Homo sapiens: one gene and its partners. The protein of the gene in region 1 purifies or fractionates together with the protein of each later gene. This does not show direct contact. Each region holds a gene or a part of one and is shown on either strand. Other genes may lie near its edges.

Evidence for each region. The genes of interacting proteins can lie anywhere in the genome.
Region 2: the proteins of C5orf24 (region 1) and PBX1 purify together in Homo sapiens (affinity purification with mass spectrometry; 2 studies listed by BioGRID and IntAct, with this or other methods). This does not show direct contact.
Region 3: the proteins of C5orf24 (region 1) and SNX18 purify together in Homo sapiens (affinity purification with mass spectrometry; one large-scale study listed by BioGRID and IntAct). This does not show direct contact.
Region 4: the proteins of C5orf24 (region 1) and MEIS1 purify together in Homo sapiens (affinity purification with mass spectrometry; 2 studies listed by BioGRID and IntAct, with this or other methods). This does not show direct contact.

What each region holds. Positions count from the first base shown.
Region 1 is NC_000005.10:134,855,968-134,860,235, reverse strand, and holds the end of C5orf24 (UPF0461 protein C5orf24), read right to left. Parts: 3' UTR 2,880-4,268; coding exon of another isoform or gene 2,839-2,879; 3' UTR 501-2,838; downstream 1-500.
Region 2 is NC_000001.11:164,810,684-164,814,183, reverse strand, and holds part of PBX1 (pre-B-cell leukemia transcription factor 1), read right to left. Parts: intron 2,195-3,500; coding exon 2,035-2,194; intron 1-2,034. UniProt on the Homo sapiens protein: Transcription factor which binds the DNA sequence 5'-TGATTGAT-3' as part of a heterodimer with HOX proteins such as HOXA1, HOXA5, HOXB7 and HOXB8. Binds to the DNA sequence 5'-TGATTGAC-3' in complex with a nuclear factor which is not a class I HOX protein.
Region 3 is NC_000005.10:54,544,423-54,547,086, reverse strand, and holds the end of SNX18 (sorting nexin-18), read right to left. Parts: 3' UTR 501-2,664; downstream 1-500.
Region 4 is NC_000002.12:66,511,625-66,515,124, reverse strand, and holds part of MEIS1 (homeobox protein Meis1), read right to left. Parts: intron 2,977-3,500; coding exon 2,831-2,976; intron 1-2,830. UniProt on the Homo sapiens protein: Acts as a transcriptional regulator of PAX6. Acts as a transcriptional activator of PF4 in complex with PBX1 or PBX2. Required for hematopoiesis, megakaryocyte lineage development and vascular patterning.

The DNA of each region.
Region 1 (4,268 bases):
CAACATAGGGTACCCCATCTCTACAAAAATTAAAAAATTAAGGCGTGGTGGCGGGCGCCTGTAATCCAGGCTACTCAGGAGGCTGAGGCAGGAGAATGGCGTGAACCTGGGAGGCGGAGTTTGCAGTGAGCGGAGATCGCGCCACTGCACTCCAGCCTAGGAGACAGAGTGAGACTCTGTCTCCAAAAAAAATAAAAATAAAAATAAAAAAATAAAAAATTAGCTGGGCATGGTGGCAGGTACCTGTAGTCCCAACTACTCGGGAGGCTGAGGTGGGAAGGTAGGAGGACTGCTTGAGCCGAGAAGGTTAAGGCTGCTGTGAGCTATGATCACGCCACCGAACTCCAGCCTGGGTGACAGAGTGAGACCCTGTCTTAAAAAAGAAAAAAAAAAAAGCAAAATTCTAAGAAAAACACAAGATCTACAGTCATGAAAAAGGTTTACCATTTACCACTTAAGTACTTGAAAAGTACCACACTAAAAAACATAGTAAACATAGCTGGTTTTAAAGTAATGACTTTATTAATAAATATACATCCATATGATGATGTAGATACAAATCATGAACACTACTCCATTCCCATACACATAATTGCACACGAGTAGCTCAAGTTCATGGACATAAAAACATACACAGTATCTATTCAGACTTTTTACAGCAGAGGACAGCGTGCTTATTATCAGTTAATTGGTAATTATTTTCTCCAAAATTACCTGTGGAAAAAAGAAATTCTGAAAACTTAAAAGAATCAAAGTGATCTGATTACTTTAAATCACACACTTGATTTACTATATAGCATTAAATTTTCCAAAAATTAAATACATTACATGTGAGAGCACAGATTTATATATTTGGAGGAGGGGGGAAAAAAGGAAAGATTCAGATACATCCTAGAGTTTAACAGCATACAGTTAAGCTGTAATAAAAACAAAAATAGAATAGCATCAAAATTTTTTATGTCCAAGGAAAAAAATCTTTTGAAAAACTGTTTTGAATTCTTTATATTCCTATAAAGGGACCATAAAATTTTACTGCATATAGAGACAATGACCGACAGAGTAGCAGTTATCAATAACCCCTGAATTGTTCTTTTAAAGCTTCTTAGAATATAAAGGAGAAATTTACTTTTTTTTTTCTTTAGCTCACACACTATGGTTATTTTTACACTGAATGGGTCAACTTTAACCTAATAAATGGACCCACATATATATTTTTTTCTCCTCAACTCAAAGAAACTCTATTCTTAGTTCATGAAAATAGACATGTAAATTCACACAAACATCAGTTTGGAATCAATATTACTTTGACAGATGTTTCTTTAAAAAGTAAATAAAAAATATAAAGAATTTTTAGTCTAATTAAAACATTGATTTTTTAAAATGTCCCTAAATATTAAAAATTAAACCAGATACTACTCATTTTCTTCCAATACATTGTGCCAATATATTTTTTAATATCCAATGCAAAACTCTAAAGATAGTATCAAAATCACCCTAAATACTACTTATGCAAGGTTATATCTGTCAAAAAATGAAAATTTCATCTGTTATTAGCTCATTTGCTAATATAATAAATAAGGCATGTTAAAGTACTTTTTAAAGAAAAAAGTAATGCAGACTTACTTGAATTGCAGATCATTTTCTGACCAACAGTTTAAATATAGAATAATGAAACCTATTTTGTGAAGAACAGAATTACACTGTATAAAATTAGCAATTTACCTTTCAAGAAACAATCATACAGTGGGGGAGAAAAGGCCAGTTTTCCCCAACTGATTATATTAAAGTATAGGCAACTGTTTAACATGCTATTTCAGTGTTTATCATAACAAGAGACAGTGTTAACAAAATATGCACAATGTAGTCTTTAGTTTATATAGCAGTAAAAATACTTTAAATTTTAAGACTTCATTCATGTTATCACTTAGATGTCTTTCTCTTCAGCATGGCACCGGTAAACTGTTCACAGGGAGAAAAGTAAGTGGAATCAGGAGATGCTCACCAGTGCATAGATATAATACTCCAGGTAACCGCTCAGATGAACAGTAAATTCGGCTTTCTAAATGATGTTATCCATTTACAACTGTAGCCATTTGCCCCTCCCATTTTTTTTTCCTGGGACATAGCTGCTGATAATAAACACTGTTATGAACATGCCTCCTTTAGTTGATCTCACCATTTCATAAACATGTATACAAAATTCATTATACAATAATACACCTGTTTTATCTTCTGACACACAGCACAGCACCAGTAAGTAGATGTGCTGGAGGGTAGAGGAAGAGGAATGAATGTACGAAAGGCAGGGGAGAAAGGGAAGGGTATGTATAACAAAATAAGGAAGGAAAATAAACTGAAAGGGAAATAAATGTCAAATGGACTTACTATAAAACACAATAATCAAATCTTTGACAATGGTGTGCATTATTCTATGGTAGAACATTAAACAAATGTCTTTAGAAACTGGCTTGAAAAAGATTTCTAAGCAGCCAACTGCTGAACATCATCTTGAGAAACAGCTAAATGACAGATACATGTACAGAGTAGGTAACGAACATATGAATAAAGAGGCAAGCATTTGTGTGTGTCAGAAGTTATACTGTTCTGAGTAAATTATTAAAAATCTTGTATTTTAAGCTTTTGCAAGAAAAAGCTCTTGTAGCAATTTAGCTGCCAGAATGTTATAACTGATTATGTAACCATCCAACATCGTTCTCTATGGTTTGTGCAAAGCTAATATTGTTGAGGTCACTGTCTTAGACGCCAGTGCACATAGTCCCCACATACAATGCAACACCTCTTACTGTAAAGAGCAGCATAAAGTCCAGCTCAATTGTGTCAGGCATCACTGGAACACCTGAAGGCTTGCTGCTTTTTTCCTGATAAAAAAGGTATGAAACATGACATCCATTTGCAATCAGAGTTTGCATTAATAGCAAGCCCAAAAAACACAACATGTGCTCTTTTAAAATTTTAATTATTTTAAAAGTTTTTGGGTCCTGCAATTCTACATTTTAATCTCAAAGGCATTTAAAATCCCAAATACAAACATTGTAACTTTAAAGTTAAGTGGAATTTTTTCAAGTCTGAAGTTTATAATATTTTATTTAGAACAAACTCAATAAATAAAATGTGTAACAAGAAGTATTACTTTCAGAAAGGAAAGAAGAAAGATTTCCCTCTGTCCCTACTATACATATCTACCTAATACTTTTTTTCCTTTCTATCTTGCTTCTAAAGCAAACATCATTGGGGGAAAAAAAATCTTTTGGATGAGATGGTCTCACTGGACCCACAATAAGATTTTTAATTAAACTAACCAACATATTTTTTACATGTTTCATGCATAGATGGATTCCTATATGCTTCTTAATATTTGGGTTCTGATGGTCGGGAAACTGCATTCTGTTTATACCAGTTTTACAGTCTACCATTCAATTTGTGTCCTTTGGTAGATATCAACCTGAAAACACAGTAAGTGCTAATGCAATGGGACAATTTCTGAGAAAAACTAAAAACGTTCCAAATAAATGAGCAACATCAATAAATGGTTTTATTTATTTATTTATTTATTTATTTATTTATTTATTTATTTGAGACGGAGTCTTACTCTGTCACCCAGGCTGGAGTGCAGTGGCACAATCTTGGCTCACTGCAACCTCCGCCTCCTGGATTTAAGCAATTCTCCTGCCTCAGCCTCCCCAGTAGCTTGGATTACAGGCGCCCGCCACCACGCCTGGCTAATTTTTATATTTTTAGTAGAGATGGGGTTTCACCATGTTGGCCAGGCTAGTCTTGAACTGCTGACCTCAAGTGATCCGCCTGCCTCGGCCTCCCAAAGTGCTGGGTGTGAGCCACCACACCCAGCCAATAAATGTTTTTAAACATAATACTTTAAAACTTTCTATATGAAAGGCAAAATATAGTGACTATAGCTACATGCAAACCTAGAGAATGCTTCTTTTTCTATTATATGAAATATGCTATCCTCAGAATGCACTATATTTCACCAAAAATGTAATGTGCAGTTTTTATAAAATAGTTTAAATTTTCTGTAAATATGAATTGTTTGTAGTGTTTGGTATATATGCTCTTAGGCAATTAAAAAATACACAACCTATCACTGCTCAAAGGCAAACACTGAAGAATTATTTCAGGTATAATGGTTAAATCAATTAATGCCATGTAGATCAATAAATTACAAGCTGCTTAAACCTAAAACATTAAAAATAAGTTTTTTAACATTTGAAGTGGATGTAAATGCCAAA
Region 2 (3,500 bases), on another chromosome or scaffold:
GATGATTTAGGTTGGTTAAGAGCAAAAGAAAATACAGAAAAGCCCATTTATAACTTTTCCTGTTAAAATGTTTATCTTTTAAAATTCCATGCTATTGCACACATACAATAGTATTTTCTTTTGCCTCTACTTTAGAAAAAGCACTACAAAGGGGTTCCTGTGCAGATTATTTCCAACAACTTACGCACAATTGGAAGGCTTAGCTCAAATTTTCCATAATAATTTACTTTGTGCTCAGAATAGTCACATGATGTTTAAGCCACCAGAAAAAAATTCCTTAGAAAACTGTAATCATAGTCTGACATTCCATAAGAGGCAACCATATTTCTTAAACACAGAATAGAGGGTTAAAATGCTTATTTTTCTCTTTTAAGGGCTTTAGGAAAGAATAAATAGTTACAAATTTAGTAATGAAGAAAGTCCACAGGGCTTTTCTAAGGACTAGTCATAAATCATGCTAAGCCATCTGCGATGCAGATATACCAGGGACAGGAAAAAGTCATTTTGATATCGTTTTGCATTATGATAACCTTTGCAGGAGTGTTGAGTGCATTTTTGCTAATGTTGACAGAATTGTACTTCTTCCAAAGAGACAAGTGAAAATGTCTGCCTAGCAGCACAGTTCAACTGGTGTTGTTGGGTCTGAAATTCTTAATAATTGACCAGATGGAGAAGATGGAACTCTCTCTGGTTATTGAACCTGTTAGCTTTGATCCCTTGTCAATCACACCATGATGGAGGAAGAAAAAAACAAAATATTTCTAAAAAAGTAAATATGCTCCTCATAGGAATCTAACCTGCAGTGCTGGGAAAATTAAAACTGGATTGAATTCTACATTGTTTTATTATATCCATGTTGAAAAAGCCCAGGCTACTCTTCATGCATGATTCCATTTAGATAAAAGAAGGCCACAAAAGAAGTGCTGGGTATAGCCCAGTGACTTGGAGGACCTTATCATAACAAATTTATGCATCTGGAAGCTCACAGAAGACATCAGTCTGTGGAACCCTACATTTCTCCAGTAACGAGTCGCTGTAAGAAAACTTATTTTAGTGGACAAACAAGCTTTGTGGTCAAAGATACCACATACTCTAAAAAATGTTAGACATTAGGTTTGTAATCATATTACGATCAAACATATTTAAATTGGTAACCTTTTAAGTTAGAATCATCAGTTTTCTTAGCTGTGCACCCTAATCAAAGTCAAACCAAACTTATTTAATGAGAAAATACTTGTCTTTCCTTTACCAAAGGGAAAAAAAAATTACCACATGCCTTCCATAGCATACAAACACAAAGGTTATATTTTTTGCATTATTAACTACATTTTTTCACATGTAGAAATTCTGAACTGATGACACAAGGCACACCCCAAAATATAGTATTTTGACCTAAACTCTTAAATTAGTGATATAATGCATATTTCCTGAAACAAAGCCTATTACATAGCTCATGACCGATAATCATAAAGAAGACCAACAAAAAACAATAAAGAACAACAACTATAAACAATATATAGAAATATTCATAGCCTGGCTTTGCATACCAAAGCATTCTAATAAGATATTTGCTAGAAGAGTAAATATTTCTGCATAGAATGCATGCTAATAAGTGACCCAGACATTATGTTGTTGGAACAGCAAAACTGACAAGGATAAAAGCTTTATATAAAACAGGCCAAATGACAGAATCCCAATAGACTATCTCTAAGCACTATGTCTAACTTACTTATTGATATCCCTGAGAGGAGAATTTAGAGGTCTCTTCAAGCTAACCAATTTACTTTGGTCTTAACTTAATAGACAAATTAATGCAAACCTCCAGACAACCCACGTTGTAAAAAGTCTAACAGATTGCTCTTTGGAAATGAAAGAAAGAGCCCAAAGTGACATTAACATCCAAAAATACAATCAAATACAGAAATTAACCAATCAAAAGCCTAACAAATTAAAAGAAAATCCCAATGTAGGAACAGCCAGTATAAAAATGGAGAACAATTCCTTCCCCCACCCCCAATCAAAGAAAAAACTAACCAGCCGAGTTGGGAGTTGAGGGCGAGTTAGCTTGGCTTCCATGGGCTGACACATTGGTAGCAGTGACAGCTGTTTTGGCAGCATAAATATTGGCTTCCTCTTGAAATTTACCTATGTTCTTCTTGTACCGGATTCGCTTATTTCCAAACCAGTTTGATACCTAGAGTAGTTTAAGAGAAGATGAGAAAGTTCACATTTCATCCTTCAGAAACATTGCAGAAGAAAAAAAAGGCTTTATGGGAGAGGTGAAGAGGTAAGCTAATTGGTCTTATCCTATAATAATTTGGCAACATCAGTAAAAAGATCTGAAGTAAGAGCTTCAAAAGGACAACTACATAAAATGCGATTCTCTTGTTTAATATAACTGAAATTTAGCGAAACCACTGTGACAAAAATCTTCCTATAAAGGAGCTGCTCATTTAAGCTAGAACCCTTTTAATTTAGAGCAAGCATTTTAAATTTGCTTACATCTTCAGTTATGACACTAAAATATACCTAACATTTCAGGAGAAATGCCCCTAGCGTTTATCAATGTGAAAGCTGGCTTGATGCCATCAAGATACACAGATCTTTAAATGTCCATATAGGTGCTTTCGTGTGATAGATTAATTGCAAATTTTTAGAAGTTACATAACTTTAATGTGGACTGAGATTCTTAGCTGTATTTCACTATAGACCTTAGGATCAATATAATTCAATCTACCAGATTTCACTGACTATTTTGTGTAAAGCTTAGTGTTATCTACATAAGGAAAAACTGTAGCATACAAATGATTATCCCCTTGAATTCTAGGGTTTAAATGTTAAAGCCAGCAGACACAATAAACCTAATTTACTTTCATTTGTTAATTTATTTCCTTCATGTGGTTCGCAGCAGGTGTCTTGGCTTGATCTGGTACCTCTGCTCCCTTCATACCAAGACCTCTGCCAGACACAAGTGGAGACACAGTTAAATTCAAGTTTTACCCCCATAATTCCTGCCCGGGGAAGGAAAGTTTTATATCCCACATTCCAGATATGATTTTGAACTAAAATGTCGATGTTTTTATATAATTACAAAACAAACTATGAATCTGGTGAGGGAAGGGGGAGTTGATCCCACATGTACCACAGCTTACATATCATTGATATTTAACTCCCAACGACGGCAGATAAAGAAAACTGTTGCAAAACTATACTTAATTTTTTAAACGCATTAACAAACTTAAAACATCTTATAAGGATAGCACTGAAAGGCTTATACAGTTTATACTACAGCAGAAATGCCAAGCCTTTCTTTTTTAAAAAAAAATCAGTCTGTACCACCACAATATTAAACAAAAAAGAAAAAAATTCAATAAGAAAATGCTTTATTTATTGTAAACACTGATGTCTACAGAAAAAGAGGTAAACTGGAGGAGGAAGGACACTTTTGGGTGTATTTCAGGATCACTGCATATCTAGTTTCACTTTGAAATTTATGTTTT
Region 3 (2,664 bases), about 80 Mb from region 1:
ATATGTAAAACAAATCTGTAAAGATAAGCAGATACAAGACTACAAAGCCCCACAAAGAGGGCAAGCTTTGCCAAATGGGACTTTGGCCCCTTGCAAGATATGCCAGGTCCCGTAGCTATTATATTTTGGCTTATGTGTGTTGGAGTTCGCCTATTTATGGCAACCAACAGACAGTATGTCAAGTACTTTACTTAAGCACCTGCTTCTGTCTCAGGTATTGGACTCATGGGAGCTATTATTTCAAAACCTCTCACTCACAACTTACTGCTATGTGCTTAATTCCTGATGTCACTAATGGAAGCAGATACTCCATGGGACTATCTGAATGATGATGGTTTTAAATTAATCAAATTAGCTACAGTGTTTGATGAATAATTTCTATGGTAACTGCAGATGAAGCTCAAGACAGAACATGCTCTTCTATTTTTCTGTGTAATTCTTCACATTAAATAAATGCCTCCTTGATGAGTGGAGAAAAAATAATTATATTCCATTGAAGCTAAGAAATAAAGCAACCTGTTTATTTTTTAAAAAGATAAACATGGCTGATCTGCACTAATCATAACATTTTGAAGGAAATAAAACAATATTCAACATTTCTAGACTACAAATAAATAATACCCTGTTTTACTTATTCTGTTAACCAAAGATGAAGGTGGAAATGAGAAAATTGAATGCTTATGGACTTAAAGGTATCAGACATGGCATTTGATTTTTGGAAAATGAAGACATAAATGGAAAATGGCTATGGCAATGAACTTAAGAATGACATTTAAAAGTTTTTACACAAACTTTACATACTTGACAGACTAAAACATTTTTCAAGTCCTTAATTATGAGAACAGCAGCAAAATTTAAGACAATTAAAAATCGGCATTTAAGAATCTGCTGTATTATTGTGAATAAATGCAAAACAACTGTATCAGTGAAGCCTGGGAAAATCTCAATTACTATAATATTCGTGCACTGGCTTTACATTTCACTTTTGAATGCGTTCCCTCATCCTGGGTGCAAACTGGGTACCTTCAGATACAACAGCTTGGACGGGGAACAAGATTACGACACATGGCTGTAGAACCAGTCTCGCTGCGTTACAGTTACAGCATATAAACAACTCTGTCTAATAAAAACAGTAAAACCAGGCTCAAGTGCACACCCTGTGTTACAAACACATCACATATCAGGATTATAAATCATAGAAATAAAGACAAATAATGGCATGAAGGGCATGATAGTTTATTTTTAAAAATTGTACCACACTGATCATGATGACCAGCATACACATGATAATGGCTTTTCTCTTGGGTTTAACATTGCAGTAGTTTTGCATACTGCAATGTTTCAATAGGACCAAGAACGTTAGAGAATAAAGATCTTAGATGAAAATGAACACTAATAATTCTAGTGTCCTCCCCCATAGAATTAATGTAAATCCCGTATGAATCAGTGGCATTATAATGTTATGTGGTTATGAAGAATGAAATTTCTCTTAGAAGTAGGCAGCATGAATTTATACTTACATAAGTATAACTTATACTTCCTTGTACTTTCATCTTTAGTTTTTATAATTTAAGCTATGTCCACCCTGGCTAAAGTACAATCATACAATATACCTCAGATAATTTCCATGCTACCATTGCACAAGTTTAGTGATTTTACTATTAAAAAAAAAAAAATCCAACCACCATCAAAATAAAGAGGCAAATAAAAGTAATTTTTAAATCATTTGAAAAGCATGGTGCTTATTTGTCCAATACAGACTCAAACTTAAATGCTATAGTTATAATTTCCAGACTTCCGCAAAATTAACATTTATATATACATATGGGTTTTGTTTATAGAACTGTATTTTGCAATCAACAAGTTTTAGAGACAACATATTTGGTTACAGTTCCACATATCTGTAGTAAAGACAAAGCCACATAATGTTCATGATGTTAAATCTGGCTCTAAGTAACCTAAGGTACAAAATTTTGACCAAATATCAAAATGATAATCTGATCTTAAAAATACAACCCATATGAAACTACTTTTTAGAGAGAAAATGTGCTGTTCAGTAATTATTTCAATAACCTTTTCTGAGTATCTGCAAACTGATCCTTTTCTTTAATCTTTGTGACTCACCAATATTTCAAAGTGACCTCTTCACTTCCATGTTACCATTTCAGTACCCAGGGATTTCTGAGGCAGCATAAGTTTGACTTCATAAAAACAGTAGATACTCTAACAGTGACAATTTTTAAATCTGTAAACTCAATAATCACATTAGTTAGCTCAGCAACTATAAAAACATTGAGATTGGGGCACTGTAAGCCAGAATCTCTTTGTGCTTTTTAAATTAAGCTGCTTTTGAATCTTTTTGGTATTTATCAGCCATCTGTATTTCCCTTATAATAATAAAAGAATACATTTAAAATAAATTTTAAGGTTAAATGTCCTGGGGGGGGGGGGCTCATCAATACCTTTTTTTTTTTTAAAACATAGTATAAATCAATTATCTTTTTCCTTCAGTATTTGGAATAGCAAAAATTATTTCTGGTCCCTCCTTAGATCAATCCACACCACTTTTCATGACATATTAACACTGAAATTTACAGACATCCCTGAAAAGTTTTTAAGTAAACAAGTGAATCACAGTGGAGTCTCAATCAGTTAACAGTGTAG
Region 4 (3,500 bases), on another chromosome or scaffold:
ATTTCCTAGATAAGTTGCATTAATCACATAGCAATGACGTGACCATTTAAAATTTGTACAGTCTTCCTAATGAATTGTGCATCCCTGAAGACCTCCCAGAACTTGAAATAAAGTCACTAAAGAATTAGTACTGAGATGTCAGTGGTTACTTACATTTAGACAAACAACAACAAAACTCTCTTTAGATTCTATAGGTTTTTAAAATAGAATTTATTAAAATTAGCTCCTTACTATAAATATTACCTAAGCAGTCCATGCATTCCTTCAAGAAGGATTACAAAACAAGGGTAACGGGTGTTCCTTATAGCTGGAGGTCTATTTGCTCTTGCAATTAGAGAAGTGGGAAGGAATCTTTTTCATTGGGGGAAGGAAAAGATGAAAAATTTAAACATATCTCTTAACTTTGCTCTTCAGATGATGTTATAAGAACAATTAGCTATCTACAGACCATTATCATTAATCAATATTTCTGTATGAGCAGATGGCATTGGAGTGGGTAATGGAGGTAGAAATATCCAATGGAAACCACAAGGTAACACCTATAAACATTCACAGAAAGCTGGGGAAACATGGATGAATGGGCTTCCCCTTCCAGGGCAGTGGCACAGGCCAGCAAAGACCTCAAAACTGAAGACTATTATTTAGGTCTCAAGAAATCAGGCAGTTCATGAATAATTTCGATTACAATTGCCCCAGTAACAAACACATAGTCCATATAAGCAATGCAATGCATGTAAAATCATGCGGGCTGTTAGAAAGTTTATTTGGGTTTTTTGTTTGTTTGTTTGTTTCAAGAAGATAATGTAGCTCTATGCAAGGGTCTTCACAAGGGTACAACCTAGAAAAACAGGAAAACTAGTGGCTGCATAAAATAGCTTGCTTCTCTCTCTCCTGATTCTGTCTGAACCAATATTTGATTATATTTTATTCAGGGGCACCTCAGCTTCAAGTAAAGCCAAAACTCCTTTGCAGATTGAGATGGGGGCTGAAGAAATCTATTCATTGTTTCTGTTAGTCTATAGGAAATAGAAATTATTTGATTGTGACTTCAGGGCCAACCTGATTTTATCCACCACACCAACTCATTCCACACAGCGAGTTAGCTGGTTATTTCTGGAGATAAAATATTAGCATCATTGCATCAGCATCATTGTACCACACCTTTGACCAATTGCCACTTCTTATCTAAATGTCATATCATTCGTTTTTCATGATATGCCCTCAAGACCTGAGTCCTCTTTCCCCTAGTTCATTAGTGATTGATAATCCTCAGTGGGGAATTTGCAGGAGTCAGATATTGAAATATCTACACACATGCAACAGGTGTCAGATAAGTAGTGGTGCCTGAATCAGATTCTAGGTAAACCTAATATGATGTTAAAATCAAAACAGCTCAAATAATCTAAATCTCCAACTAATTTCCAGCATAGCCAAGCCCTGAAGTTTACTCAAAAACTGTAGTGTAGTCTAGATACTGTTTGGAATTATTATGGGAAGAAGAGAAGGGAGGAAACTTTTTTTTTTTTTTAGCTATTCCTGCTGCTCTCAGCTTTTATCTTATTCACTGATGCTGGAAAATCTGGATTAATTTATACCCTTGAGTATTATTAGAGGCACAGCCTCTATCCAGAGGAGCAGAACTAACATGACCTGCAGACATCCCCTGAGTTTGTATCTCTGTACCCGTAAAACTCACTGAGGAACATGGCTTTGAATGTGGGCCCAGGTATGAAGGTAAACAGGCTCTGCAAGTGTTTATGACAATGCAAGATTAACTTTAATATTTAAGGAAAAATTGACTTTAGGAAAAGCAAGCTAAGACAAAAATAGTAACACAAAATATTTTCTCCTGATATTAAAAAACAACCCTCAAGAGTTTTTAACATTTATCCATCTATGTAACTTTGCTACAACCTGTCTAAATTCATCCTTTGTCTCTAATATTGAAATTCCTCTGGTCAACAATTTTGTTGATTTTTAAAATATTATTTTATCCACAAATCTTCATTGTATCTTCTTCTTTAAATTGGTATGCACTTACAAAAATATCCACCAAAATATTATTATTATAAATATTTTGAACATGAAATTCATTCAGAACAATAACCAAACAAAACAAATCCCCCAGTGGCATAAAGCCCCAAATCTCCAGTTTCTCACATCTCCAGGAGAATTCCTGCAGTGAAAACAGCAATACTGGCACAGACAATATAAACTGTTACTCTGCTTGAAAAGTCACAAGGGACTACACAGGAAGAGCTGACTCTATATTGCTGTTTTCCTTTACAGTTCTAAATACAGGGACAACTTTCACTGTGGAGCTCTGACTTACATGAATGTTTTGTAATGGAAGCCAGTGCATTCAAACCACTTAAAAGCAAATTATGTGATCATCTTGCCATTGCAACATGATTTAAATTTTTGTGGACCATTTGTTGTAAAGATCCACTAAAGCATCAGAAGATATTAAGTCTCTCTCTAGGGTTTGTCTAACTTTCTTCTTAGTAGGAGATGGTTCTGAGCACTTAAGGGTCACACTTAGAAAAGCAACATCATTAAAACACATACTTAAAATCACAAGTGCACATGAACACCTAAATCTTTTAACTTATGAAAGTTAACAAAATCGCAATCGTGAATTTTAAATAAAATTTCTCATTTGGGGTATCTATCTAAGAAATAAGTGCTAATACTTTTGCAAAAACTGTGGGAACACAGTTATTTATTAAATATTTCAAGTCCAGAGGGATCACTTTTTTCTCATTTTTTTGTATAAAAACTGGTTCATTGTCCATATTTAGTTTATATATGTCATTTAGAATCCACTTACTGTTAGATGCTGGAACAGCCACGCCCTCATGATATTTGTGGCTACTTTGGGAAAGATGCCACGCTTTTTGTGACGCTTTTTGTCCTTATCAGGGTCATCATCGTCACCTGTGCTGGGGGAAGCTACACTGTTGTCCAAGCCATCACCTGCAAACATAGCGAATCAAATTTTGACTGATGCTACCTTGACATGCTTTATTCAAATAGAATGCCTTTGGATATAAACAAAACCAAAAGAGCAAATTTAAATGATTAATAGTTTCTTTGGTACTGTTTTTTTGTTGTGTTTTGTTTTCCAAGACAGAGAAAGAACAAGGCCTAGGCTCAAGAGCAGTCAGGTCTAAAGAACTTCTTCCAAAGAACATTGCCAAAAGTCAAAGGGAATGGAGGGAAATATCCAATCCCCTTGTGGCTTTGTTGCTATGGTAATTATTCCAATATGTATAGCTGAGACAGGTTAAGTGTAACTCCTACCGGGGAGTTAAACATGGTGGCAGTCATTAGCTGTGGCGCTATGGCTGCCTGGGCATTCAAATCCCACAGTCATTGACATTGACTTGTGAGAAGATTCATTTAAGATATCAACTATTTCCACAAGTGATCTATCTTAAGACTAGTTAAACTAGGATGGGGAAATGTAGGTAATCCATCATATAAGCAGTTTGACATAG